Homo sapiens: one gene and its partners. The protein of the gene in region 1 interacts with the protein of each later gene in a pairwise test. Each region holds a gene or a part of one and is shown in the gene's direction. Other genes may lie near its edges.

What was found.
Region 2: the proteins of RHBDD2 (region 1) and SCGB3A1 interact in binary tests that used the Homo sapiens proteins (3 or more experiments, as listed by UniProt).
Region 3: the proteins of RHBDD2 (region 1) and ABHD16A interact in binary tests that used the Homo sapiens proteins (3 or more experiments, as listed by UniProt).
Region 4: the proteins of RHBDD2 (region 1) and SLC25A2 interact in binary tests that used the Homo sapiens proteins (3 or more experiments, as listed by UniProt).

The regions. Positions count from the first base shown.
Region 1 is NC_000007.14:75,874,460-75,882,536, forward strand, and holds the start of RHBDD2 (rhomboid domain-containing protein 2), read left to right. Parts: upstream 1-4,574; 5' UTR 4,575-4,623; coding exon 4,624-4,801; intron 4,802-5,786; exon of another isoform or gene 5,787-5,856; intron 5,857-6,905; exon of another isoform or gene 6,906-7,031; intron 7,032-7,369; coding exon 7,370-7,777; intron 7,778-8,077.
Region 2 is NC_000005.10:180,589,513-180,596,055, reverse strand, and holds SCGB3A1 (secretoglobin family 3A member 1 precursor), read left to right. Parts: upstream 1-4,556; 5' UTR 4,557-4,593; coding exon 4,594-4,645; intron 4,646-5,217; coding exon 5,218-5,456; intron 5,457-5,801; coding exon 5,802-5,825; 3' UTR 5,826-5,951; downstream 5,952-6,543. UniProt on the Homo sapiens protein: Secreted cytokine-like protein. Inhibits cell growth in vitro.
Region 3 is NC_000006.12:31,693,120-31,700,911, reverse strand, and holds part of ABHD16A (phosphatidylserine lipase ABHD16A), read left to right. Parts: intron 1-3,878; coding exon 3,879-3,964; intron 3,965-7,479; coding exon 7,480-7,553; intron 7,554-7,762; coding exon 7,763-7,792. UniProt on the Homo sapiens protein: Phosphatidylserine (PS) lipase that mediates the hydrolysis of phosphatidylserine to generate lysophosphatidylserine (LPS). LPS constitutes a class of signaling lipids that regulates immunological and neurological processes.
Region 4 is NC_000005.10:141,301,541-141,308,560, reverse strand, and holds SLC25A2 (mitochondrial ornithine transporter 2), read left to right. Parts: upstream 1-4,511; 5' UTR 4,512-4,695; coding exon 4,696-5,601; 3' UTR 5,602-5,926; downstream 5,927-7,020.

The DNA.
Region 1 (8,077 bases):
GTGACTGGCCAAAAACCAGGAAGTAAATACCGTGTTATACTTGCCATGGTAGAGATGTGTGTAGTGGTAGAAATAGAACAACCTGGCTGGGCACAGGGGCTCACGCCTGTAATCCCAGCACTTTGGAAGGCCAAGGCAGGTGGATCATGAGGTCAGGAGATCGAGACCATCCTGGCTAACATGGTGAAACCCCGTCTTTACTGAAAATACAAAAAAATTAGCCAGACGTGGTGGCGGGCGCCTGTAGTCCCAGCTACTCGGGAGGCTGAGGCAGGAGAATGGCGTGAACTCGGAAGGTAGAGTTTGTAGTGAGCCAAGGTCGCACCACTGCACTCCAGCCTGGGCGACAGAGCGAGACTCCGTCTCAAAAAAAAAAAAGAAATAGAACAACTTGGCCAGGTGCAGTGGCGCACGCCTATAATCCCAGCACTTTGGGAGGCCAAGGCAGATGGATCACTTGAGGCCAGGAGTTTGAGAGCAGCCTGGCCAACATGGCGAAACCCTGTCTCTACTAAAAATACAAAAATTAGCAGGGCGTGGTGGCATGTGCCTGTAATCCCAGCTACTGGGGAGGCTAAGGCAGGAGAATCACTTGAACCTGGGAGGTGGAGGTTGCAGTGAGCCAAGATCACGCCACTGCACTCCAGCCTGGGCGACAGAGTAAGACTCTGTCTCAAAAAAATAAAAAGAAATAGAACAACTTTAGAGATCTAATGACCCAAGTTCAAATCCTAGCTCTTCCACTAACTCACAGTGTGACCTCCTCACATCCTATTCGTCCCTCGGTCAATCTTATCTGTTTTCTTCATCAAAACCCTGCAAGATAAGACTTAGTTCCCATTTTATAGATGAGGAAACTGAGGCTCCCTTACCCAAGATCACTCAGGCAGCGAGTGAAAGAGCCAGGGTGAGGTCCTGCTTCCTCCTGACTTCCAGCCTGAGCTCCACCAGCTCCACACTGGCTGCTTCTCAAATGCTAATGTAGGAGCCATTAATGTCTCCTTTAAGGGAACATTAAAGGAAATGGCCAGTATAACATGGTATTTATCTCCTGGTTTTTGGCTTGGCTCATGCCTGGAATCCCAACACTTTGGGAGGCCCAGGCACGAGGATCACTTGAGCCCAAGAGTTTGAGACCAGCCTGGGCAACATAGTGAGACCTCTGTCTGTACAAACAACAACAACAAAAAGGCCCAGTGGGCTGGGCGTGGTGGCTCAAGCCTGTAATCCCAGCATTTTGGGAGGCTGAGATCTCAGGCGGATCACCTGAGATCGGGAGTTCGAGACCAGCCTGACCATCATGGTGAAACCCCGTTTCTGCTAAAAATGCAAAATTAACCGGGCATGCTAGCGCATGCCTGTAATCCTAGCTACTCGGGACGCTGAGTCAGGAGAATCGCTTGAACCGGGGAGGCGGAGGTTGCGGTGAGCCAAGATCACACCATTGCACTCCAACCTGGGGAACAAAAGCGAAACTCAGTCTCAAAAAAAAAAAAAAAAAGTGCAGTGTCTCACACCTGCAATCCTAGGTTTCCCTTAAGGGAAACGTGAATATCTCCTGCAACTGCCCTCTCCGAGCCTAAACCCTCTGCACAGCAAATGCAGAAAACTCTTTCTACAGAGAGCTAGGTGGGCTGACTGGCCATGCCATCCTAGACTGGTGTACCTCAGGTCTCCTCTTCAAAAAATATCTTGAAATTCTTGCCAGAAATTCAGTGTGAAATGCATTCGGGATGGTGGCTGTTGTTATAACAGTCCCCAGGGGTCTCAATTACGTGAGAACCCTCGGCTTCTGGACAAGAGACAAGGAAGGGAAGTAGGTCACATCCCAAAGGCATCAGGGCTAATAACTTTGCATTGAACATTTTCTGTGGCCCCACTGTGTGCTAGGTGCCAGGGCTGTGGATACAGACACAGGTATAAATCAGACATGGCTTCTGCCCTTGGTAAGCTCACAATTACGGGCACAAATATGCAATGATAGTATAATATGGGAAGTGCCTCAGGAGGCTGAGGCAGCGAACTGCTTGAACCAGGGAGGAGGAGGTTACAGTGAACAGACATTACAGCACTGCACTCCAGCCTGGGTGACAGAGCAAGACTTCGTCTCAAAAAAAAAAAAAAAAAATTCCTGGAAGACTTGTTGCCTAATTTTAAGTTACTTAACTTCTCTGTATCTCCATTGCTTCATCTGTAAAACGGGCGTAATTACAGAACCAGCCTCACAAGGGTTGTGAAAATGTAATGAGTAACTACATAAAAAGCACACAACAGGCTAGGCATGGTGGCTCACACCTGTCATCCCAGCACTTTGGGAGGCCAAGGCGGGACGATTGCCTAAGCCCAGGAGTTCAAGACCAGCCTGGGCAACAGAGCAAGATCCCATCTCTACAAAAAAGAAGCAGCTAGCTAGGTGCGGTAGCACGCACCTGTGGTTCCAGCTACTTGGGAGGCTGAGGCAGGAGGATACCATGAGCCCGGGAGGTCAAGGCTGCAGTGAGCTATGATTGTGCTACTGAAGCAGGACACACAAGCCCCAAAATTTAGCCTCCTTCCTTCAGAGCCAGCAGGAGCTTCTAAGCTATGGGGGGCAGCAGTTACAGCTGAGTCAAACCAAAGCCTGCAGCCAAGGGCAAGGAGCTGATAACACTAGGGTGGGTGTGTGGGGAAGGAGCCAAATACTTCTACCATGTGAGGGGAGGGAGTACTGGGCAGGGTCACTGGAGAAAGCGAAAAAGGTAGTACCCTTGAAGGTACTGCTGGGCACAGTGGCTCATGTCTGTAATTCCAGGACTTTGAGAGGTCAAGGCAGGCTTATCACCTGAGGTCAGGAGTTCGAGACCAGCCTGGCCAATGTGGTGAAATCCCATATCTACTAAAAATGCAAAAATTAGCTGGGCGTGGTGATGCACACCTGTAGTCCCAGCTACTTGGGACTCGGGAGGCTGAGGCACAAGAATCACTTGCATCTGGGTGGCAGAGGTGGCAGTGAGCAGAGATCACGCCACTGCACTCCAGCCTGGGTGACAGAGTGAGACTCTTGTCAAAAAAAAAGGAAGGTCTACCTTAAACAGCTGTTCTCCAGCAAAAGCACTTTTCAAACTGTAAAGTGCTGAAATAGATCTCGGTTATGAGTGTTCTATTACATCCCTAACTTTTGAGTCCCTTCCATTGAATCCCTCTCCCGTTTCCTGTCCCTTTTCCTTTTTTTTTTTTCCGAGATACAGTCTTGCTCTGTCACCCAGGCTGGAGCGCAGTGGTGCGATCTCGGCTTGCTGCAACCTCCGCCTCCTGGGTTCAAGCGATTCTCCTGCCTCAGCCTCCGGAGTAGCTGGGATTACAGGCACGCGCCACCATGCCGGGTTAATTTTTGTAGTTTTATTAGAGACGGGGTTTCACCATGTTGGCCAGGCTGGTCTCTAATTCTTGACCTCGTGATCCGCCCGCCTCGGCCTCCCAAAGTGCTGGGATTGCAGGCGTGAGCCACCGTGCCCAGCCTCCTGCCCCTTTTCTTCAATATGAAGATAAAGCTGCCCCTGGCTGTACTGGAGGCCAATTCCGGGCCATAGCAGGAGGAACTGAGTTCTAATTCTGTCTTTGCCATGTAACTGAATTACCCAGGGCCCTCCCTAGTCCTGTTTCCTCTTTGGTGTAATAGGGATGAATACAGATGGGAAGATCGTGATATGAAAGAGTTCTGTGAGCTGTAAGGCATAATAATCATGAGGTATTATTACAGGACCAACAGGTGCCTAGGCCCGCTGTGCAATAACAGACCAGTTACACTGAGGAAGCAGGGTTATCAGCAGAAAAAGGGTTTAAAGATGGCAGGGTGCCTAGGAGGAGACGCAGGGAGACCAACAAATCCATCTTCCCCAAGGAGTTCCGGGCTGGGATTTTAAAGGGCATTGTGAAGGGTGAGGGGCTGGAAAATTGGGGTCATCGACTGGTCAGGGTAAGGGGGTTGAAATCCTCAGGATATGGAAACTGCAGTCCCCATTGAGTCTTGCTTCTGTGGGCTCCTTCAGAACAACTGGTGTCAGTAATTATGCTGGTATGCGGGACCTGAAAGAATATCTCCAAGGGAAAACGTTTCATAATGTTCAAGTTGTTATCTATGGAGTTAAGGGGAATTGTAATCTTGTGACAGGGTCTACGTGATTCTAGGACAGACGATGGGCACCTATCATAGCTGATACACAGAGCTATGAGCAAGCAGGTCGGAGAGCAAGGTGACCTAGTGATGAACGCAGAGTGTGCTGCAAGCTTCGTTTATTTTCGTTTTTCCCCCTCCCTTCTTCCCTGATTAATTTCCTAAAGTTTATAGGAGCAGTTTCAGTACCAGCCCGAGTAGGATGGAATCAAACACGGTGCTGGAACATTCCTACCCGGAAGTGGCCCCGACCCCCCTCCCCCCGTCCCGGCCTCCCACGCACGGGGGGGGGGGGGGGGGGGGCTGATCGGCGCTACCGGATTGGACAACTTGGCATGGGGCGGGGCCTCTGGGAGGCGTGGCCTCCGGCCGGCTCCTCTGCTGTTGCCAAGGGAAACTGCCGCGAGGAGGCGGAAGGAGCAGAGGACCGGCAGCCGGCGTCGAGGCGGGGCGCGGGAACGACGGCGGCCATGGCGGCCTCGGGGCCCGGGTGTCGCAGCTGGTGCTTGTGTCCCGAGGTGCCATCCGCCACCTTCTTCACTGCGCTGCTCTCGCTGCTGGTTTCCGGGCCTCGCCTGTTCCTGCTGCAGCAGCCCCTGGCGCCCTCGGGCCTCACGCTGAAGTCCGAGGCCCTTCGCAACTGGCAAGGTGAGCAGGGGCGGGCCGGGATCGCGGGGCGAGTCCTTGTCCTCCGACTTTGCCGGTTCCTGGGCTCTAGCCTCCGGGACTCGCCCCTTCAGGCCTCACCGCCAGTCTCCCCCTGTCTCGGTCCTCATCACCATGCCCGCCCCCCGGAGGACCGACCTCCAGCACCGTCTCTTGCTCTCCGTGTTCCACACCTTTGTCTGCAGACCCCATCTTCGTCATCACTGTAATCCCTTCCCTACCCGAATTTGTTCCCTTCCCTGTCGCCACCAGACTGGTTAAGGCCCCAAATCCATTCGCTAGCAAATCCATGCTCGCTCTCCAAGGGTAAAGATTTTTCGTCTCCCCCTCCCATTTCACATACACACCTACGTCTGCTTTAGGCCTAAGCCCCACTGAAAAACGTTTTTCTCTCACCTACATCACGACAATTGGACTTTATCCACAAACCCCTATAAGCCCTATAAACGTCCTGCCCTCTTGAGATTTGGAATTTCTTCTGCTTTTTCATCTGTATCTTAATCTTGACTGCCATTCCCAGCTCATGGGGGTACCAGGGTGTCTTCTGCCTTTGGAGAGAAGTGTTTGTTTTTCTCTAGGGGAGAGAAATTTTGCAGACCAATTAAGTATAAACATCCATTCCTGAAAGACATTCCTAGTCTCCGTGTCTTCCTCATTTTCTCGAGAGGAACACAGGAAATTTGCATATCTCCTGCTGTTTTGCAAAGCACACACACTGATATGTATTAATTTCGTTTAACCCTCACAAGGATCCCATGACGTAGGACCTGTTATTGGCCCGTTATCTAGATAAGATTGAGGTTTCATGCAGAGAATCGCAGAGCTGTTGCGTCATGCAATTGAGATAGGAATCTATATTTTTTTTTTTATTCTGTGATGTTTTGGAACTAGAGCCTTCGGGTAGATAATCTCCAAATCATGTACAGTTGCTTCTAGAATCTTTTCATGTTTATACTTGGAATTTCAGTTTTGGAAATACTCAACAAATAATGAAGTACTCTTCAGATAATGAAGCCTCTGGTGATGGCCAGACTGAGGTATATGGTTCCATAGCCTGCTTCCCCACTCCAATCTAAAACTGTTCCCCCCACCCTAGGTATACATAGCACCACCTCACAGACAGAAGCAAAATGCCAACCTAACCTTAACCTCCCACTTTCTGGGGTTCACTGCTTCCCTGGGTGTGGGTTTCGTGGATATGTGAGCGTTAGAGACGTAAGGGACCTTTGAAGTCCTCAATCTAACTCTTGTTACTTTACAGTGAGGAAACTGACGCCTAGAGGACCTGTGACATGATTAAACTCAGCCAGCCTGGATGTAATAGAGCCAAGATTCCACTCCAAGTCTTTAGACTCCCAAGTCCAATATTACCATCAGTTCTTTGGTCTCTCTCCTTGAGTTTAGTCGTATTTGGGCATGCAGGGACATAAAAATACTTAAGAGATAACCACTTCTAAAATTTTTTTAGAGATAGGGTCTTCGTCTTACCCAGGCTGGAGTGCAGAGATGCAATCATAGCTCACTGCAGCGTTCAACTCCTGGAATCAAGCGAGCCTCCTGCCTCAGCCTCCCAAGTAGCTGGGACTACAAGTACACATCATCACACCTGACTAATTTTTAAATTTTTTTTAAAGACGGGGGTCTCACTATGTTACCTAGGCTGGTCTTGAACTCCTGGGCTCAAGTGATCCTTCCACCTAAGCCTCCCAAAATGCTGGGATTACAGGTGTGAGCCACCATGCCTGGCGATAACTGCTTTTAGAAAAATAAAAGGCCAGGAATGATGGTTCGTATGTGTAGTTTCAGCACTTTGGGAATTCAAGGCAGGAGGATCACTGGAGGCCAGGAGTTCAAGGCTAGCCTGGGCAACGTAGCAAGACTTTGTCTCTACAAATAAAAATTTAAAAAAAGGAAAAGGAGGATTCTTTGATGTCTTATTACATATAAAGCATCAGTTTACCTGTGAGATCGGATAAGCACTTTCTGAGGAGACTTATAATTTCTATAATCTTTATTGTTAATGATAGTGTTATAATTCTTACAGCTGCAAAATAATTCATGGTCCCTTTTTTCTTCCTCTGAACAGCCACTATGGAAGGAGGGGTCAGGATTACAGCAGAGGAGACTGGCACACAGAGTGTTAAGTGACACCCACTCAATCCACCCCGAAGCTGTTACACTTAATTAACCCTCAAACTGCCCAGTGAGGTAGGTCAGTATGAAAACCTGAAAAAGGATTATAAAGCACTTTACAAATTCAGAGACTGCCCTCTACCGAAAAGTATTATTTTTTTCCCTCTGGAAGTCAGTTACCGCTAAGAGTTGCACCAGGCCTGGGGAAGTGTAGGGATTAGATATTCATGCCTCTCCTTTGAGGCTCTGGGTCCTTCATTGTTGAACGCACTGCTTGTATTGCCTCCTGCTGCGACTCACTGGCTCTCACTTCTCTGTCACGGAGGGGGGCTCTCTGCCTTTCCTAGGCGGCTTATAACCTGGCTTCCCTCCTGGGAGCAACCCGCCGCCAGGCCTCTAACCCGACTCCCTCTGCAGTTTACAGGCTGGTAACCTACATCTTTGTCTACGAGAATCCCATCTCCCTGCTCTGCGGCGCTATCATCATCTGGCGCTTTGCTGGCAATTTCGAGAGAACCGTGGGCACCGTCCGCCACTGCTTCTTCACCGTGATCTTCGCCATCTTCTCCGCTATCATCTTCCTGTCATTCGAGGCTGTGTCATCACTGTCAAAGCTGGGGGAAGTGGAGGATGCCAGAGGTTTCACCCCAGTGGCCTTTGCCATGCTGGGAGTCACCACCGTCCGTTCTCGGATGAGGCGGGCCCTGGTGTTTGGCATGGTTGTGCCCTCAGTCCTGGTTCCGTGGCTCCTGCTGGGTGCCTCGTGGCTCATTCCCCAGACCTCTTTCCTCAGTAATGTCTGCGGGCTGTCCATCGGGCTGGCCTGTATCCTTCCTAGCAGAGAGCTATAGAACAACGCATGTCAAAGGGTGAACCAGGCTGGAGGGTCTGGGGTGTCAAGTAGATAAAATTGGGCTTACTTTGTATTTTTTCGAAACAGAGTCTCTGTCACCCAGGCTGGAGTGCAGTGGCAGGATCTCAACTCACTGCAACCTCTGCCTCCTGGGCTCAAGCAATCCTGCCTCAGCCCCCTGAGTAGCTGGGACTACAGGTGTGCACCACTACACCCGGCTAATTTTTATATTTTCTTTTTAGTAGACACAGGGTTTCACCATGTTGCCCAGG
Region 2 (6,543 bases), on another chromosome or scaffold:
GGTGGGGGCATCAGAGTGGGCATCTGCCACCTGAACAGCCCTCCACAGGTGTCTGCGGAAGCACCGCCAAAGCGTGGGCCGGGCGGAGGCACCGTGAGCCTCTAGGCTCCCCAGCAGGAGCACCCAGGGGCTGAGTACCCTGCTCCGAGGCCCTGAGGTCTTTCAATAGGCCCCAAATTCAATATCTGGCCCCTTCCCCAGAGCCGCAAAGTGCTTGTTTACCTTCCAGCTCTTCCTGCATTCCGTGGGAGTGGGCAAGGTGTGCGTGTTTATTTTGGCCCAAAAGATGCCCTGCAAACACTGCCCAGAACAAGCTGACCGTGTCGTCTGCAGACAGCGCCAAGCACTTTCTCAGTGTCTCGGCAGACCTGAGCCAGCAAGGGCCGCAAGCAGGAGTGGCAGGGAAGGCCCAGGCTGACGAGAGGGCGCTGCCCACCCGCCCCTGTCCCATGCCGGGCGGACTCTGACACCCACCCTGGAAGCCTCACCTGGCCTGGCCTTCAAGGGGCAGGGCAGCACTTGGAGGGCATGGCAGGCCCCAGGTCCGTCCACACCCCAGCTCCTGGAACCTTGGAATGTTAGGCTCAGCAGGCACGGTCTCGGCAGCCCGACTGGGGGCGTCATTGTGAGATGAGGGGACTGTCCTGGGTTATCTAGGTGAGCCCTAAATGCAACAACACACACACTCATAAGATGGCGGCAGAATTTTCACACTCACACACACCCACACTCACACACACATTCACACACACTTGCACACAATTCAAACACATGCATATCCACACACTCCCTCCCACACACTCCCTCCCACACTCTCCCTCCCACACAGACTGACTCACGCTTATCCACACACACACTTGTACACACATTCACACTCAAACACACCCACAAGCTCACACCCACTCACTCTCCTTCACATGCACATTCTCATTCACTGTCCATCTTACACACTTGCATGCATATTCACTCTCACCCCTCCACACACACACCCCCACACATCCCCACACCCACACACACCCACACATGAACCCTCACACACACCCACATACACACCCACACATACACACCCTCACACACACCCCACACACACTCACACACCCACACATACCCTCACACACCCTCACACACACCCATACCCTCTCACTCCCACACACCCACACACGAACCCTCACACACCCACACACACCCCCACACACACCCACACACCCACACACACCCACACACCGACAAACCCTCACACACACACCCCACGCACCCTCACACACACACCCACACACACAGAAGAGGAGGAGGCCATGTGACCAGGAGGCAGAGACTGGAGTGATGCAGTCACCAGCCAAGGGGCCCTGGCAGCCCCCATAAGCAGGGAGAGGCCAGGAGTGGATAAGCTCCTGGGAAGGCCCAGCCTCTGGAGGAGGAGCGGCCCCCGACGCCTCGCCTTCACCCCCGTGACACTGCACTTCTGGGCTCCAGAACTGCGAGCGGAGTAAATGTGTTGTTTTCAGCCACCAGGTATGTGGTGACTTGTCACAGCAGCCTCAGGAAATGAATACAGAGGCAGCCGCTGACCCAGCTGTGCAGGTCTCGGCACAGGCCAGACCCTCGGCCTGCCTGATCCCCAACTACCGCAGAGGCTTCGCCAGCCGTGGCCCCCAGAGCCAGTGTGGGGTGAGGGGCTGGGCCAGCCTGAGGTGAGTCCTGGCTTGCCTTGACCATGGCAGCTCGGGAGAGGAGAGCACATCCTTTGGCCCTGTCAGTGGTGAAACGGAGACACCGTGACACACTTCTCCGGGGAGCCAGGGGATGTATTTTTGGAATCCGAAATCTTGGGGCACATGGGAATGAGGGCCTGTCACCACCCTGCAGGCTTGTGGGAAATGGGAACAGATCCACCCAAGGCACTATGAGCCGGAAGGTGGAGGGAGGTTATTTTGAAGACAAAGGATCCCTGGAGGCAGGTGCAAGGGGCCGCTGGAGTGGCCAGGACCCCAAGCGCTGCTGGGGACCCACAGATGACGGCCTCCCCCTCCTCCTGGCCTCGGCAGCATCGGTCTTTCCCGCGGTCAGTGTTCTCTGGTCCCCAGGCAGCATGGGGAAAGGTGGCCCCAAAGTCAGCTCCCAAGATGCGCCCACTGGGATTGCTTGGGCCAAGGCTGCCAGATCCTGCTCAGGAGAAGAACAAGCATCATGAGGTTGTGGACACACTGGGATCCTTGTGCATTGTTGCTGGGAAGGCAGCGTGGTGCCGCTGCTATGGGAGAGATGGCAGATCCTCACAAATGACACAGGCAAGTTCCACAGGCTCCAGCCATTCTACCTCTGAGCAGCCACCCAAAACAGCCAACAGCAGGGTCCCAAAGAGGCATTTGCACAGCCGTGTTCACGGCCGCATTACTCACAGCAGTGAAAACATGCAAGCGCCCACATGTCCACCCACGGGTGAAGTGAATGGGTGAAGAAAACGTGGCACAGCCATGCAATGGAGCAGTATCCTACCCTAAGAAGGAAGGAAACTCTGAAGGTCATGAATGAACCTGGAGGATATCATGCTAAGTGAAATACGCCAGACACAAAAGACAAACACTGCCCGATTCCACTCATATGAGGTGCCGGGAGTGGCCAGATTCAGAGACAGAAAGTGGAATGGTGGTGCCAAGGGCTTGGGGAGGGGAGTGGGGAGTTGTTTAATAGGCTCAGAGTTTCAGTTTTATAAGAGGAAAAGAGTTCTGGAAATGGATTGTGGTGATGTTTGCACAACATTAGAATATACTTAATGCTAATGGAGTGTGCCCTTAAGATGGTGAAGCTGGGCTGTGCGGGGTGGCTCACACGTGTCATCACAGCACCTTGGGAGTCTGAGGCGGGAGGATTGCTTCAGGCCAGGATTTTGAGACCAGCTTGGTCAATGTAGCGAGACCCCATCTCTAGAAAAAATAAAAATAAATCAAGCCAGGCGTGGTGGCTCACACCTGTAATCCCAGCACTTTGGGAGGCTGAGGCAAGAGTATCACTTGAGGCTAAGAGTTCAAGACCAGTCTGGGCAACACAGTGAGACTTTGTCTCTACAAAAAATAAACAAAATTAGCTGGACATAGTGGTGCACACCTATAGCCCCACCTGCTTGGGAGGCTGAGGTGGGAGAATTGCTTGAGCCTGGGAGGTGGAGGCTGCAGTGAACCAAGATCACCTCACTACACTCCAGCCTGGGCGACAGAGTGAGACTGTCTCAAAAAACAAACAAACAAAAAACAAAATCAAAATCCGCTGAGTGTGGTGGCTCACACCTCTAGTCCCAGCTACTTGGGAGTCTGAGGTGGGAGGATTGCTTGAGCTCAGGAGTTCGAGACCAGCCTGGGCAACACGGCAAGACAGTGTCTTTACCACCACCAAAAAAGTAATTAACTTCAAACTGTTTTTAAAAAAGAAAACGTATTTCCCATTAAAATTACTTCCATGATGACCAACAAAACACAACCAAACTCCAGATTTATAATGCAAAAATCCCCCAAACAAAATAGTCAAGGAAAAGTGTAAGTGAACAGAAACAGTGTGAATGCGTGTGCCTGGCCACAACAGTTGGCAAAGGCACAAGTGTCTGCAGGTGCGGAGGAGGCCGCAGTAGCTCGGGGTGGCTGAGGGCTAAGACGTGCTGTCAGCCATAGGGAAGGAATTCCAGGACACTGCCTGAAGAGTCAGGTCCTCCCACCCGGGAGCCTGTTTCCCACGCGTGCCAGCTACACTTTACAAAAGAAAAGAGAGACTTTGCACCAACCTAGCTGAGAGCAGCCACGCAGCAAAACGTGAGTCACTCAGTGCTCAATGCCTGGGGTCAAAAAATAGAGGAAAGAAGAAGGACTAAAAGCAAATTAGTTTATGTATCATTTGCAAAAGTTTTCAAAATGTGCTTTGCTCTCCATCTGTCATACTTCTGCAGGTGACAGACGAGTGAGGACATTTAGAGAAACTCAGGAACAAACCAGGCCCATCCACTGGCGTCGAGGCTAGTTTCGAAGACAGAAAAACGCCCCACTTCTGTTTGCACTGTGGCTGCCTGTGGCCCGGCCGGGGAGGCGGCCGGGAGTGAGGCCTGATCGTCCCTGGCGCCTCCACCTCCCCAGGCGCAGAAGGCGCCCACGAGGACCCCCAGTGCCCGACGTTGCCACGGTCTGGGATCAGAGGCAGGGACCAGGGAGCCAGGAACTGCGCCGCCCCCGCCCCTGCCCTGGCGCGAGGGAAGCTCCCCTCACCCGGGCCCAGCCCTGCAGGGGGGCGCGTGGGGTCAGACCGCAAAGCGAAGGTGCGGGCCGGGGTGGGCCTCGCGGAGACAAAGGCCGGGCCTGCCTGCTCTCAGAGGGCCCCAGCGCCTGCCAAGAGGAAGTCCTCGAGGCCCGGGCAGGGAAGGGGGCACGGGCTTCCCAGGGCCCGCCGGCCGCAGCAGGAAGTTGGCCAGGGCACGGCCGTGAGCGGAGCGGGCAGGGCTTTCTCAGGAGCGCGGGCGAGGCCGGCGCTGGAGGGGCGAGGACCGGGTATAAGAAGCCTCGTGGCCTTGCCCGGGCAGCCGCAGGTTCCCCGCGCGCCCCGAGCCCCCGCGCCATGAAGCTCGCCGCCCTCCTGGGGCTCTGCGTGGCCCTGTCCTGCAGCTCCGGTGAGCGCCCCGGGCTCCTGGCGCGCACGGTGGGGCCTGAGGCCTCGGCGCCCGCTGCGCCCCCGCCGCTGCCTGCGCCGATCGTGGATCCCAGGTCCTTCCAGCCTCGCCCGGCGCCCAGAGGGCTCCGCCACCCCGGGGCCCCGCGCCTGCAGCCCGCGGCCTCCCCCTCTCAGGGCTGTCTCCAGCCTCGTGCCGGGATGGAGGCCGCCCCTGGCCTGGGGACACCCGTCTGCCCCCCGTCTGGAGACCGGCTCCTCATCCTGCAAGGCGCAGCGCGAGTGTCCCCTCCCTTGGGGGCCTGTCCCGGACCCTGCACAGAGTTCACCGGTCCTTCCGCCACCCTCAGGCCACTCCGGTGACCCTGCAGCGTCTCCTGGCGGGGCCGCCTCCCCAGACCCGCCTGTGTCCCGGGGGCTCGCACCTGGCAGGCCTCGGCGCAGGAGGGAGGGGCGGTCGGGGAGCCGGGCAGGGCGCGACGGTTCCTGGGCGCCTCCCGCGGGGGCGCGTCCTGGACCTGCCTTCTGGGGACCCCGGCGCGCAGGCGGTGACCCCTCCCTGTTCGCTTGCAGCTGCTGCTTTCTTAGTGGGCTCGGCCAAGCCTGTGGCCCAGCCTGTCGCTGCGCTGGAGTCGGCGGCGGAGGCCGGGGCCGGGACCCTGGCCAACCCCCTCGGCACCCTCAACCCGCTGAAGCTCCTGCTGAGCAGCCTGGGCATCCCCGTGAACCACCTCATAGAGGGCTCCCAGAAGTGTGTGGCTGAGCTGGGTCCCCAGGCCGTGGGGGCCGTGAAGGCCCTGAAGGCCCTGCTGGTAAAGTGGGCACCCCGGGTGCCCTTCCTGCGCGGGCATCCCTTCCCGGCCAGCCTCAAAACTGCACCAGAGGTGTCCCGGCCCTACGTCAGGGCTGTTTCCCGTCCTGCCCCTCCAAGCCCTGTCCCTGGGAGAAGCCCGGGTCTCCGGGTGGGAACTGGGTGGGGCGCATCCGAGCTGCAGGGGCGGGGAAGGCGGAGATGGCCCCGCGCGGGTGCGCGTCCCCCGGAGACGCCAGCGGAACCGCCCCGCTCCCGCTCCCCACAGAGCCGGCCGCTGCCGCGCCCCCGCCTGAGTTCTTGGTGGCAGGGCTGGGGGCACTCAAGCTCGGCTTCTGCTTTCCAGGGGGCCCTGACAGTGTTTGGCTGAGCCGAGACTGGAGCATCTACACCTGAGGACAAGACGCTGCCCACCCGCGAGGGCTGAAAACCCCGCCGCGGGGAGGACCGTCCATCCCCTTCCCCCGGCCCCTCTCAATAAACGTGGTTAAGAGCAGCTCGAGCCTGGTATTTTCTCATCCAAATGCTGATCCCTGTGGGGGACCGAGAGTGCCAAGTCCCAGATTTTGTGAGGGGTGCTGCGTGAGAGAGGGAGAGAGAGGCCGCGAGAGTCTGCAGGTGGCATAGAGCCAGCAGTGCAAGGTGACAGAGATGGGGCCAGTATCAGAGGTAAACCGGATTTGGAAACAAAACTGGCAGGTCTTTCTTCCTGTTGTGCTCTGTAACTGTTTATGAAGCATAAAAATTATCTACTCCTTGAAGACTGGCGAGAATGCAAACGCACCAAAGCCATTTGTTGCTAAAATTTGAAAGTTTTTATTTTTTCCCTCTATACTTGTAGATTTCTTCCTCGGAATGGGGGAGGAATGAGGGCTTCAGGAAATCCGCTGTTGGGCTTGTTTTCCCTGCAGTTTCTGCTGGTTTTGTCCAAATAACCTAGTGACTTTGATTCCTTCTACTCTAGCGGAGAGACCACCTTTTGTCAACTGATCTAGTGTTGGTGGGAAGGTGCCCAGGGAACCCAGACATCGGTGTCCCTTTCAGGGGAAGCCTCCCAGTTGACTTCCTTGCTGGGATGAATAACTCTG
Region 3 (7,792 bases), on another chromosome or scaffold:
TATCTGTCACTGTCACTGGTTAAAAATTAAGTACCTTGTGCAAATACATTTTAGTGATGGGCCTCCGAGAGGGAATCATTGAGAATGGTTTAAGGCATGATCTTTTCCTTAAAAGACTTGGGTTATAAATATGAAAAAATAACTGAAAAGTAACAAAAAGGTTTGCTTTTTTTTTTTTAAGAGATAGGGTCTCACCATGTTGTCCAGGCTGGTCTCAAACTCCTGAACTCAAAGTGATCCTCCCACCTCAGCCTCCCGAAGTACTGGGATTATAGATGTGAGCCACTATGCCTGGCTGCTTTTATCTAGAAAAGATGCATATACCCTACAACAATTCTATATATGTATACATACTAGGAAAACTCCTGCACATGTATAAACAATATAGATGTACAAGAATACAGCATACAACATTGTTTGTAATAATCCTAAGCTGGAAACAACTCCAGTGGCTACAAATAGTAGGATGGATAAAATATGTTCTGTGTGGCCGGGTGTGGTGGCTCATGCCTGTAATCCCAGCACTTTGGGAGGCAGAGGCCAGTGGATCACGAGGTCAGGAATTTGAGACCAGCCTGACCAACATGGTAAAACCCCGTCTCTACCAAAAATACAAAAATTAGCTGGGCATGGTGGCACGTGCCTGTAATCCCAGCTACTTAGGAGGCTGAGGCAGGAGAATAGCTTGAACCTGGGAGGCAAAGGTTGCAGTGAGACGAGATTGCGCTACTGCACTCCATCCTGGGCAACAGAGCAAGACTCCGTCTCAAAAAAAAAAAAAAGTTCCATGCAATAGCCATGCAAGAGAACACTATATAGCAATGCAAATGAACAAACTGTAGCTACGCTCAACAACGCAGATGAAGCCAGGTGCAGTGGCTCATGCCTGTAATCCTAGCAGTTTGGTAGGCTGAAGCAGGCAGATCACCAGAGGTCAGGAGTTCAAGACCAGTCTGTCCAACATGGTGAAACCCCGTCTCTACTAAACATACAAAAAAAAATTAGCCAGGTATGGTGGTGAGCACCTGTAATCCCAGCTATTCGGGAGGCTGAGGCAGTAGAATTGCTTGAATCCAAGAGGCAGAGGTTGCAGTGAGCCAAGATTGCGCTACTGTACTGCATCCTGGGCAACAGAGCAAGGCTCCATCTCAGAAAAAATAAAATACAAAAAATTAACTGGGCATGGTGGCACATGCCTATAGTCTTAACTGCTTGGGAGGCTAAGGCATGAGAACTGCTTGAACCTGGGAGGCAGAGGTTGCAGTGAGCCAAGATAGCACCACTGCACTCCAGTCTGGGTGACAGAGCGAGACTCTGTCTCCAGATAAACAAAAGCAATGCAGATGAATTTCTCAAATGTTGTGTTAAATAGAAGAAGCTAACCACAAAATAATGTATGCAGTATGTTTTCATTTATATAAAATTCAAAAGGGATGTGCATGTTTGAGGTAGAACACCGAAGACAACAAGGGCATGGTTTTCTTTTTTTTTTTTTTTTTTTTTGAGACGGAGTCTCGCTCTGTCCCCCAGGCTGGAGTGCAGTGGCGCGATCTCGGCTCACTGCAAGCTCCGCCTCCCGGGTTCACGCCATTCTCCTGCTTCAGCCTCCCGAGTAGCTGGGACTACAGGCGCCCACCACCACACCCGGCTAGGTTTTTTTGTATTTTTTAGTAGAGATGGGGTTTCACCGTGTTAGCCAGGATGGTCTCAATCTCCTGACCTCGTGATCCACCCGCCTCGGCCTCCCAAAGTGCTGAGATTACAGGCTTGAGCCACCGCGCCCAGCAAGGGCATGGTTTTCTCAAAAGTTAGGAGAGTGATTACCTGGGGTGGGGGAGAACAGAGTGGGGGAGAGCCCTGCTGAGAGGTGGCTGTGTTCTCTTTGTTGACCTAGGTGATAGTCACATGAATGTTTGCTTTGTATTTTTTAAACTGAATATATGTTTTATGTACATATGTTGTATCTCGCAATTTAAAAAAATAAAGAGGACAGATCACCTACCCCTAGTGGGTACATAAGATGACAACCAGGTGATGGGCGATGCTTCAACATGGGGGTGGTGGGGTCAGGGCTGGATGGTCGCAGTTGGGTCCAGGACCTTCTGCCTGAGGTGTTCTGCCCCCTGATCTCTGCAGGGCTGGGCTCTCTCCTCAGAGAGGCCTTCCCTGACCACCCTGTCTAAAAGTAGCTCCCACTGCTCAGTTTTGTCTTAGTTTTTTATTTTATTTATTTTTAATTTAGAAAAAATACAGAAAAAATTAGCTGTGCATGGTGGCGGGCGCTTGTAATCCCAGCTATTTGGGAGGCTGTGGCAGGAGAATCACTTGAACCCGGGAGGCGGAGGTTGCAGTGAGCCGAGAGCACATCATTGCACTCCCGCCTGGGCAACAAGAGCAAAACTGTCTCAAAAAAAAGAAAAAAGAAAAAATACAGAAAAGTCCAGAGAACAAAATATAAAAGCCTTTTTAAATTTTTTGATGTATAGTTTTGTGATTTTTTTTTTATATATAGTTTTGTGATATTTGCTTTAAATGCTTTCTGTCAACAAAATACTAAAGCACCACAGTTAGGGTTGGAGTTCCCATTGGAATCCTTTCAGTCCCATCTTCCTCTTTCCTCAGAAGTAATAATTGTCATTTGGTGTGGGTTTTTTTTTTTTCTGGCACATACTTTTATGAAACATATACCTCAGTTCCTCAAGTCTAAGCTGCCATCAATTGTAAAATGAATTCTAATTTCAGAGTTTTCAAGGGTTAAAAAATATACATTTTAGAATCTATGAAATATGGTATCTATAAGCAGTATGTATTATTTTGCACATTTTACATTTTTGGCATAAATGTTGTACAAATCATTCTGCAGCACACATCATTCTCTCATCATATCGTTTTGGGGGAATACCATTGATGACACATAAAGTTCTGGTTCATTCTTGTTGTATTTTCTCTGTAGCACTTATCCCTCTCTGAAATGTTGTTTATTGTCTTCTCCTGGCTGTACCTAACCCCAACCAGAATGCCAGCTCTCTGAGAGCCAGGAGCTGTGTATCTCATTTCCTGCTGAGTCTCCCGTGTGTAGTACGGTGCCTGTCTGACACACGACACCTGCCAAGTCAGTGAGGAGAGAAGTTAGGGTTTGAGGTGGCTCAGCAGTGAAAGGAGAGTGGATGCAATCACTGACTGTGTAAGTGAAAAGAGAGAGGAGAGAGAGTCAGCACTGAGAGTTGCTTCTGCTTCAGAAAGGAAAGCAGAAAGGAGGCAGGAGAGGAACTGTTCAGGAACTGGAAGGAGTCAAGGATGGGCCCAGGAAGCAGAGGCAGGAAGAATCTTGAGGGACAGGGAGAATGCTGAGTAGTACAGTTGAAGAGAATGAGGATAGAAGAGTCAGGAATTCAGTGAGGAAGTAATTATGGGCAGGAGTCGGAGACTCTGAAGCCAGATGGCAAGGGGCTAGAATATACAGAAAAGAGGCAGAAAGCAAACATTGGAGAAGAATGGCAGTGAAAAATAGAGAAATTTGATATTCGCAAGGGAGAATAGTATTATATGATAGTGTTTAATAGTGTCATTTAATAGGTTATATGACAGTGTTTAAAGACTGAGGAAGAGGAACATTCTGGAAGATGGTAGGTTAAGGATTGTCTATAAAGACACAAACTGCAGAAGCTAGGGAGAAGAAGCGTCCTGTAGCCAGTTGCTGGATTTGGAGGAAGGGGGTTGGCTCACATCTATTTCTCCGCATCCTATGCCCTCAGTTCCTTTTTCTTTCACTTTTTCTTACAGGGCCTTCTTCTAGCCCATCTCCAATTCTTTTCCTAAAACCTAGGCTTTCTGCTTCCCAGTTTTCCTAGCACTGTTTCCTGTCCTTTTTCTACCAGGCATTGGCCGCTGGACCAACCCCCAGTACCGGCAGTTCATCACCATCTTGGAAGCAACACATCGGAACCAGTCTTCAGAAAACAAGGTGAGAGGCCCTAGGAAAAGTGCCACACAGGCACCCAATAGCAGCTTTCTCAGTTGTCCCTCAGAGCACCAGACACTGGCTTCTGCAGGAAGAGGAGGTGTGTTTTACCACCCACCACACTGGGTGTTTGCTTGCACATTGCTGTATCCCTTCTCACCTCCATTAGTGAACTGTCCACCTGAGGAATTTTTCCTCCCTACCACTTCTAATGGAATATTCTGCTAGAACAATCTTCCCCCTCCCTCACCTGTAAGAACTGGCTAAACTAGAAACATTCCACAATGTTTCTTTTTTCTTTTTCTTTTTTTTTTTTTGAGATGGAGTTTCGCTCTTGTTGCCCAGGCTGGAGTGCAATGGCACGATCTCGGCTCACTGCACTCTCCACCTCCCAGGTTCAAGTGATTCTCCTGTCTCAGCTTCCTGAGTAGCTAGGATTACAGGCACGCACCACCCACACCCTCTAATTTTTGTATTTTTTGTAGAGACGGGGTTTCACCATGTTGGCTAGGCTGGTCTCCAACTCATGACCTCAGGCGATCTGCCTGCCCCAGCCTCCCAAAGTGCTGGGATTACAGGCGTGAGCCACCACTCCTGGCCTCTTTTTTTTTTTTTCTTCTTTGAGACAGAGTCTCACTCTTACTCAGGCTGGAGTATAGTGGTACAATCTCAGTTTACTACAACCTCCAACTCCCGGGTTCAAACAATGCTCATGCCTCAGCCTCCTGAGTAGCTGGAATTACAGGTGCACACCACCACGCCCAGTTAATTTTTTTTTTTTTTTTTTGAGACGGAGTCTCACTCTGTCGCCCAGGCTGGAGTGCAGTGGCGCCATCTCAGCTTACTGCAAGCTCGGCCTCCCGGGTTCATGCCATTGTCCTGCCTCAGCCCCCTGAGTAGCTGGGACTACAGGCGCCTGCCACCACGCCCGGCTAATTTTTTTATTTTTAGTAGAGACGGGGTTTCACCATGTTAGCCAGGATGGTCTTGATCTCCTGACCTTGTGATCCGCCTGCCTCGGCCTCCCAAAGTGCTGGGATTACAGGCGTGAGCCACCGTGCCTGGCCAATTTTTGTATTTTTAGCAGAGACAGGGTTTCATCATGTTGGCCAGGCTAGTCTTGAACTCCTGACTGCAGACGATCTGCCTGCCTTGGCCTTCCAAAGTGCTGGGATTATAGGTGTGAGCCACTGTGCCTGGCCCACAGTGTTTCTTTTTTTTTCTTTTGAGATGGAGTTTCGCTCTTGTTGCCCAGGCTGGCGTGCAATGGCATGATTCCAGCTCACTGCAACCTCCGCCTCCTGGGTTCAAGCGATTCTCCTGCCTCAGCCTCCCAAGTAGCTGGGATTACAGGCATGCGCCACCACGCCCAGCTAATATTGTATTTTTAGTAGAGATGGGGTTTAGCTGTGTTGGTCAGGCTGGTCTCAAACTCCTGACCTCAGGTGATCCACCTGCCTTGGCCTCCCAAAGTGCTGGGATTACAGGTGTGAGCCACTGCACCCAGCCCACAATGTTTCTTAGAAGGTAGTTTTCTCTGTATCACAGCAGCTCAGTTCTATAAATGTTTAATTTTGTTGTATGCATTGAATACCATGCTATCCTTGTTTGTGGATGGGACAAGGTGGACAGGTGTGTCCACTCCTATGCCTGGGAGTACAGCATGGTGCCAGGAGGGAGAAAAGCTAGGGCTCAGTGTCTTGGGAATTATGCCAAGCCGGCTGGTGCTGGACTGTGATTATCTTTGAGGATGGGCTTTGGGGCCCCATAGAGCTCTTTTCTGTTATGGGAGGTTTCTAGGATCAAACAGCTATGACCACCATCATCACATTCCTGGCTACTCCACACTATGGAGCTGCGTAATGATGCCCTGTACTATGCTACTGGCTGAAGCATTTGGCACACACCCTTTCTGATCCTCACAACAGCTGAGTGAGGTGGCATTATTACCTTTATTTGTAAATGTGAGAAAACAGAGGCAAAAAGAGGTTAAGTGACCCATTCGGAGTCATAGAGCAAGAAAGTGGCTAAGTCCAGATTTGAGAGCAGGTCTGAGCAAAGCCTGCCTGAAATTTGCTTTTAGTCATCTTGTTTTGTTTTGCCATTTACCTTTTTGTATAATTTTTCTATTGCTCTCTGTTAGTCAAATTATTTTTGAAATGTCAAAAAATTTCTGTGCAGAAAATAAAAACCCTCAAAATAGAGTGCTAGGAGCTCAGGGGGTGGGGGACGAATATAGTCAAGTATTAAGACACAGCTAGGCCGGGCGCGGTGGCTCACACCTGTAATCCCAGCACTTTGGAAGGCCGAGGCGGGTGGATCACGAGGTCAGGAGATCAAGACCATCCTGGCTAACATGGTGAAACCCCATCTCTGCTAAAGGTACAAAAATTAGCCGGGCATGGTGGTGGCAGGCACCTGTAGTCCCAGCTACTTGGAGGCTGAGGCGGGAGAATGGCGTGAAGCCGGGAGGCAGAGCTTGCAGTGATCCGAGATCGTGCCACTGCACTCCAGCCTGGGCGACAGAGTGAGACTCCATCTCAAAAAAAAAAAAAAAAAAAAAGACACAGCTCCCACTGCCGTCAAAAAACGTGGAGCTGGTGAGGTGGTTCATGCCTATAATCCCAGCACTTTCGGAAGCCAAGGCAGGAGGATCGCTTCAGCCCAGGAGTTGGAGACCAGCCTGGGCAACATAGTAAGACCTTGTCTCTAAAGAAAATTTTAAAAATTAGCTGGGCATGGTAGCACATGTCTGTAGTCCCAGCTACTCCAGAGGCTAAGGTAGGAGGATCACTTGGGCCTGGGAGTTTGAGGCTGCAGTGAGCTATGATTGCACCAACTGCATTCCAGCCTGGGCAACAGCACGAGACCCTGCCTCAAAAAAAAAAAAAAAGGCATGTGGACTGGCTCAGTGGGGTGGCCCGAGGTTCGGATGGGCTGTAGGGCAACACTGATCCATGGCTGCAGGAGTTGAGGAAGGGATGTAGTTGTGAGGATGGAAGTCAGAGCTTCCTTCAACGGGTGGCCCCACATGGCAGAGGAGCCCACTGTGGGCGTGACTTCCCTCCTCTCTGTCTCACTCAACCTTGGGTCTGTCAGTGTGATCTGCTGGGAGATTTCTAAGCTTCTAAGACAGCACCCTATAAGGGACCCAGGTGGGGAATAGACCGTGACCAGCCAGCGACCCCTACTACCCGTCACTCAAAAGCACTAGCACCTTCAGCCACTCCTCCTGGGGATGGGTCAGACTTAGTTTTTTAGAAAAGCAGAGTGTTAGGTTCTTAGCTTGGAAGAGGGCAGACAGGCCAGTCCTGATACCTGATGGGGCATACCATCTCCCCTGATTTTCTGGTCCTGTTAGAATTTTCCATCTGAGAATTGGGAGGGTATTGACCTCCGCTTGGTTTCCCCATGATGTGTGGGGATCAGACCCCTGGATAACGAAGGTGTTGTTGAGGGTGGGTAGGAGAGCCTCCCCTGAGTTCTCAGTACCCCTTTGCCTCTCGTGCCCACTGCAGAGGCAGCTTGCCAACTACAACTTTGACTTCCGGAGCTGGCCAGTCGACTTCCACTGGGAAGAACCCAGCAGCCGGTGAGGCCCCAGTTCTTTTGCTGTATCTCTCCCCTTAGAACCATTCCAGAAAATCTCTGCTCTGCCCTCCCACCTCCATGCCCTCTCAGGTCACAGTGCCTGCCTTCCAATGCCATTATGTCGTTCCTAGACCCCACTGTTCTCCAGACCTCAGACATCCAGCTTGCTGCTCCTGACCCTATCCTTCCCTGCATCTTTCCCTTCCTCAGGAAGGAGTCTCGAGGGGGCCCTTCCCGCCG
Region 4 (7,020 bases), on another chromosome or scaffold:
CTCTGGCCCAGCTACATGGGAGGCTAAAGTGGAAGGATTGCTTCAGCCTGAGAGGTTGAGGTTACAGTGAGCCATGATTGTGCCACTGCATTCTGGCCTGGGCAGCAGAGCAAGACAAACCAAAACAAAACCCTTTTCCCCCGTTCCCTTTCCTGAAAGTGAAATCAAAACATAGAAAAAAATTCCTCAAATATGACATGAAGGATTTAAAAATCCTAATGAAGTTTTCTATTTTCAAATTGCAGATTGTTCTCATCCTTTCTGCTTTACCTAAGAGGCTGCTAAATAAAACAACAGAAAGGATTTTTAAAAGATGTTAACTTCTAAGGACAAAGAGAATAGGAAATGAGACAACAGTGGATGAGAGATGTCAACCCATTATCTGAAGGCCAAAACAGAGAAATGATAAATGAATTCATAGATCAGAAAAAGTTACATGCTAAATGTCTGCAAGTAGTTATACCAAAGAGAGACAAACCCACTTGACAGAGCCTTGTAAGATGCAAAATTTTTGCAAGCAGAAGATTCCAGGGAAGGTGGGAAGGTGTAGGGTTAGAGATGTGAGATTCATTAAAGTCTGTGTTCAGAGTTGTTGGGTGTCCAGGATCTCTATCCCACTCTATGAAGCCAGATAACTCTTTCCATCCCACAGAAGATGGAAATTTTATTTTCTGGATAAATTGAACCAAAGAAGGCCCAAACTCAGAGAAAGTAGGCACAGTGTCAAATAAGGAAAAAATTATGTGAAAGTCTGTATATTTACTCCAGGTGTGTCATCCCTCTTCCCCTCTCTTGTTCTCTTTAAATCAGTATCTAGGTTTATAACCTACCTCTCCCCCACCACACCCTGCACACACACAGTCAAAGCTCATAGAGCATTCTCTGAGGAAACTATGTGGTACCAGAGAAAAGAACTGCAACTGCTGACATTTGGGCATTTCCCAAAGAAAAGCCCAGATTACTATTTACTACAGTGAAGACTACCTGGTGACAAATTATCCATGCACAATTTGCTTTTTAGTACCTCATTAAAAAATTTTTTTTTAAATTTTCTCAGAGACCTTTGTTCTGAAGTACCTCACTTTTAATTGACAGCCAAGGATAATTAGACAAGGAAAGTTTTCTAAATGAAAGAGAATGCTTTCAGCATACTTTCTTCCCCCCAGATTTTGTTTTTACTACCCATGGCCGACGACGGCTTGGAATGTAAGCCTGGAGAGAATTCATTCCAATGCTGGGATTATAAATATCTGGGAGGAAGAAGTGTGTCCTGACAGTGGTATCCTCACTAATGTCCAAAAAACATCTTGCTTTGAAAGCTAGACATGTCATTTGTATCCCGAACTTCTACTTCTTTTTAAATTGAATTTCATTTTAGATTCAAGGAGTACATGTGCAGGTGTGTTACATGGGTATGTTGTGTAACGCTGAGGTTTGGGCTTCTAGTGAACCCGTCACCCACATAGTGAATGTAGTACCCAACAGGTAGGTTTTCAACCCTCAATCCCTCCCACCCTCCCCACTTTTGGATTCCCCAGTGTCTGTTATTCCCATCTTTATGTCTTTGTGTACCCATTGTTTAGCTCCCACTTATATAAGTGAGAACATGCAGTATTTGATTTTCTGGTTCTAAGATATTTCACCTAGAATAACAGCCCCCAGCTCCATCCATGTTGTGAGGGACATAATTTCATTCTTTTTTATGGCTGCATAGTATTCCGTGGTATACATATACCACATTTTCTTTATCCAATCAACTATTGATGAACACTTACATTGATTCTGTGACTTTCCTGTTGTGAATAGTGCTTCCATAAACATATGAGTGTAGATGTTTTCTGGTTTTTTTTTTGGAGACAGGGTCTTGTTTTGCCACCCAGGCTGGATCATAACTCACTGCAGCCTCCAACTCAGCTCAGTCAATCCTCCCATCTCCGCCTCCTGTGTAGCTGCCACTACAGGGGCATGCCATCATGCATGGCTACTTTTTGTATTTTTTTGTAGAGATGGCATTTTGCCATGTTGTCCAGGCTGGTCTGGAGCTCCTGGGCTCAAGCGATCTACCTGGCTTGGGCTCCCAAAATTCTGGGATTACAGGTGTAAGTCACTGTCCCCAGCACAGGTGTCTTTTTGATAAAATGATTTCTTTTCCTTTGGGTAGATACCTAATAGTGGGATTGCTGGGTTGAATGGGTGTTCTATTTTTAGTTCTTTGAGAAATCTCCATACTGCTTTCCATAGGGGTTGAACTATTTTACATTCCCACCAACAGTGTACAAACGACAAATTTCTACTTCTGCATGAGGCTGTGTGGGTCCTCAAAGAGAATCTCAAAACTTAGAAAGCATAGTGCTGAGCCACCCAGCTCTTTTCTATCAAGTTTCTTAGCAATGCAGTATATAAATACTATCCATTTTCCAAGTTGATTTTATAGTGCCGTGTTCTATCTTCAGAAATGATAAGGACTCCACGTTCCACCAGTTCCCAGGGCTGCAACCCCAGATCCTTGGGGATGTTGCCATGTGATAGCATTTCTCCAGCTCTGCAGGAAAGCAGTAGCACATCTCCAGGGCTAAGGATTCCCACAGTGCCCTACTCCCCTCCTTGCCCCCCAGGAAAGTGAGGAGCGTGGGCAGATCGCTGAGGGTTTTCTGATCAAAAGCAGTCACTGTCTCTCATGTAGCAACCCTCAGATCGTTTCGTTACCGGACAGGGGTCCCGATCCAGACCCAAGAGATTGTTCTTGGATCTCATGCAAGAAATAATTTGGGGCAAGTTCATAGAGTCAAGTGAAAGCAAGTTTATTAGAGAAGTAAAGAAGCAAAAGAATGGCTACTCCATAGGCACAGCAGTGGCCTGGGCGGCTTGACTAAGGATACTTACAGTTTTTTATTGAATGTAAGCTAAACAAGGGGTGGATTATTCATGAGGTTTCTGGGAAAGGGGTCCAAAGTTACCGGAACTGAGGATTCCTCCCCCTTTTTAGACCACATAGGGTCACTTCTTATTGTTGCCATGGCATCTGTAAGTGGACACGGCGCTGGTGGGCGTGTCTTTTAGCATGCTAATGCATTATAATTGGCGTATAATGAGCAGTAAGGACGACCAGAGGTCACTTATTATGCCATCTTGATTCTGGTGGGATTTGGCTGGCTTCTTTACTGAAACCTGTTTTATCAGCAAGGTCTTTGTGACCCGTATCTTGTGCCGGCCTCCTATCTCATCCTGTGACTTAGAATGCCTGTCTTCCTGGGAATGCAGTCCAGTAGGTCTCGGCCTTATTTTACTCAGTCCCTAGTCAAGATGGAGTTGCTGTGGTTCCAGCGCCTCTGACAGTTTGTCTTCTCTACTTTATTTTTTGTAGGGGGTAAGGGGTGTCTCATTTTGCTGCCCAAGCTAGCCTTGAACTCCTAGGCTCAAATGAGCCTCCCTCCGCAGCCTCTCCAAGTGTTGGGATTACAGGCATGAGCCACCACACCTGGCCTGTCTTATCTACTTTAAAGCAGTTTTCTTGTAGATTGACCCTCTGAATTCAGGGTCTATTCAAGTGAGGGCATCTTCTTTTCGGGTTGTTTGTTTTTGTTTTTTGCATGGTAAGAAGCGTGGGATAGGCCGGGTGTGGTGGTTCATGCTTGTAAGCCCCAACACTTTGGGAGGCCAGTGGGTGGATTGCTTGAGTTCAGGAGTTCGAGACTAGCCTGGGCAACATGGCGAAACCCCGTCTGTACAATACAAAATTTAGCCAGATGTGGTGGCTTGCGCCTGTAGTCCCTCTAGTCTCAGCTACTCAGGAGGCTGAGGTGAGAGGATCGCCTGAGGCCAGGAGATTGGGGCTGCAGTGAGCCAGGATCGCGCCACTGAACTCCAGCTTAGGCGGCCGAGTGAGACCCTAAGTCAAAAAAAAAAAAAAGAGAGAAAAGAAAAGAAGCAGGGCTGACTGATTAGGACAGCATTTCTTTTGCCGCCAGCTGAACTGCGGCGTCTAGAGTTCCCGGCCATAATTGCAAGAATTTATCGAAAAGCTTTACATGTTTTCTTGGTTTTGGTTTTGTTTTGAGACAGAGCCTCACCCTTTCGCCCACCCTGGAGTGCAGTGTGCGATCATAGCTCACTGCAGCATCGACCTCCCGGGTTCAAGCGATCCTCGCTTCATTCTCCTGAATTGCTGGGACCACAGGCGCGCGCCATCGCGCCCGGGTATTTTTTCGTTTTTGTAGAAATGGAGTCTTGCCATATTGCCCAGGCTGGTCTCGATCTCCTGGGCTCAAGCGATCCTCCCGCCTCGGCCTCCCAAAGTGCTGGGATACAGGAGTGAGCCACCGCGCCCAGTCGCAGTACACTAAAAGTATTTATTCGGTCCGCGTCCCCCGCCTGCGGGTGCAGGGATGGCGGCTCCAGGCTGGAGGCGGCTGGGGGCCCGGCCAGTGCGCCAGGAGCCGCAGGAACGCTAGTGAGCCGCGCGCTGGGCCGGCAGCTGGGGGTTATTTTAGTGCGCGGGGAGGGGGCGGCCCGCGGCGGAGCGTAGGGTTGAGCGGCTTCCCCCGCACTGGGGTGAGAGCCCAGAACAGGCGGTAGAGCCACCCCACCACCCCCAACTCCATTCCCCGCGCTCGCTGCGGCTGGACGTGAAAAGCCGGTCTCACGCTCTGGGGAGTTAGTCGCCTTCCACTGGGACCCTCAGACGAGTGAGCGAACATGAAGTCCGGTCCTGGCATCCAAGCCGCCATCGACCTCACAGCGGGGGCCGCAGGGGGGACAGCGTGTGTACTGACTGGGCAGCCCTTCGACACAATAAAAGTGAAGATGCAGACGTTCCCTGACCTGTACAAGGGCCTCACCGACTGCTTCCTGAAGACATACGCTCAAGTGGGTCTCCGGGGCTTCTACAAGGGCACCGGCCCGGCACTTATGGCCTACGTCGCCGAAAACTCGGTCCTCTTCATGTGCTACGGGTTCTGCCAGCAGTTTGTCAGGAAAGTGGCTGGAATGGACAAGCAGGCAAAGCTGAGTGATCTCCAGACTGCAGCCGCGGGGTCCTTCGCCTCTGCATTTGCTGCACTGGCTCTCTGCCCCACTGAGCTTGTGAAGTGCCGGCTACAGACCATGTATGAAATGGAGATGTCAGGGAAGATAGCAAAAAGCCATAATACAATTTGGTCTGTCGTGAAGGGTATCCTTAAAAAGGATGGCCCCTTGGGCTTCTACCATGGACTCTCGAGTACTCTACTTCAAGAAGTACCGGGTTATTTCTTTTTCTTTGGTGGCTATGAACTGAGCCGATCGTTTTTTGCGTCAGGGAGATCAAAAGATGAACTAGGCCCTGTCCATTTGATGTTAAGTGGTGGAGTTGCTGGAATTTGCCTGTGGCTTGTCGTGTTCCCAGTGGATTGTATTAAATCCAGAATTCAAGTTCTTTCCATGTATGGGAAACAGGCAGGATTTATTGGTACCCTCTTAAGTGTTGTGAGAAATGAAGGAATAGTAGCCTTATATTCTGGACTGAAAGCTACTATGATTCGAGCAATCCCTGCCAATGGGGCACTGTTTGTGGCCTACGAATACAGCAGGAAGATGATGATGAAACAGTTGGAAGCATACTGAAGTGTCTTGGTGAACCTGGATCCGAGTCCATGAGTTTGAGGACTACAGTTCATCACAGGGTTCAGCAGAGTACAAGACCACTGTCTAATTTTGACTTCATGGGAATTTTGGTTTTATCTTCCCTTCTTCTACCCTAAATCTTAACTTTATGGAAGGGCCTCTATTTTACATCATATAATTTCTGCCCATAATTGTATTGAAATAGGAAAGTTGCTGCTCTTGCACTTGCTGGAATGTACAGGGTGGGCTGGTTGGCCCTATGTACCTAATCTGAAAAACTAAATATCGTTCTGTCAGGGCCTTTGCATAAAGCCATTTGTGTGTACATGCAGTTTGGATGATTCTATGTCGTGAGTGAAACAATTTAGTTCTATATATAATCTCAAATATCAGCCCCCCAAACCCAGAATTGACCATATTTTGTGAAGATAGGTATGAATGATTACTTAGGATCACTCTCTCTTTTTTTCTTTTTTTTTGGAGACAGAGTCTCACTCTGTCGCCCAGGCTGGAGTGCTGTGGCATGATCTTGGCTCACTGCAACCTCTGCCTGCCTGGTTCAAGCGATTCTCCTGCCTCAGCCTCCCGAGTTGCTGGGATTACAGGTGCCCGCCACCATGCCCAGCTAATTTTTGTATTTTTAGTAGGGATGGGGTTTCACCATGTTAGCCAGGCTGGTCTCGAACTCCTGACCTCAGGTGATCCACCCAGCTCAGCCTCCCAAAGTGATGGGATTATAGGCATGAGACACCGCACCCGGCCAGGATCTCTTTTAAAGTCTGCTTAACATGCGCACTACATTAGGCGGTTCAAGTTTTGAAACATCTTCATGTGGTGCTTGATACCAAAATACTCCTCTCTCTCTCTCTCTCTCATATATATATATATATGAGAAAAAGTATATATATATATATACTTTTTTTTTTTGAGATGCAGTCTCACTCTTGTTGCCCAGGCTGGAGTGCAGTGGCACGATCTTGGCTCACTGCAACCTCCGCCTCCTGGGTTCAAGTGATTCTTCTACCTCAGCCTCCCAAGTAGCTGGGACTACAGGTGCACGCCACCACACCCGGCTAACTTTTGTGTTTTTAGTAGAGATGGGGCTTTGCCATGTTGGCCAGGCTCGTCATGAACTCCTAACCTCAGGTGATCCACCCGCCTAGGCCTCCCAAAGTTCTGGGATCACAGGTGTGAGCCGCTGCGCCTGGCCTCATCTATATTTTTAAGAGGAGAAGGTACCTGCATACCAGTGTGGCTTTGACATTCTTGAGTTAAAAGTTTCAGAGTAAGCATTGTGGATTTTCCCAAGAAACAATACCCTTAATATAGTGTTATCCATTTTCAAAGTGGGATTATATTCTGCACTCTGCCTATATGGTTAGGGATGATCTAGAGTATCATCAGGCCTTGGGGAATCCA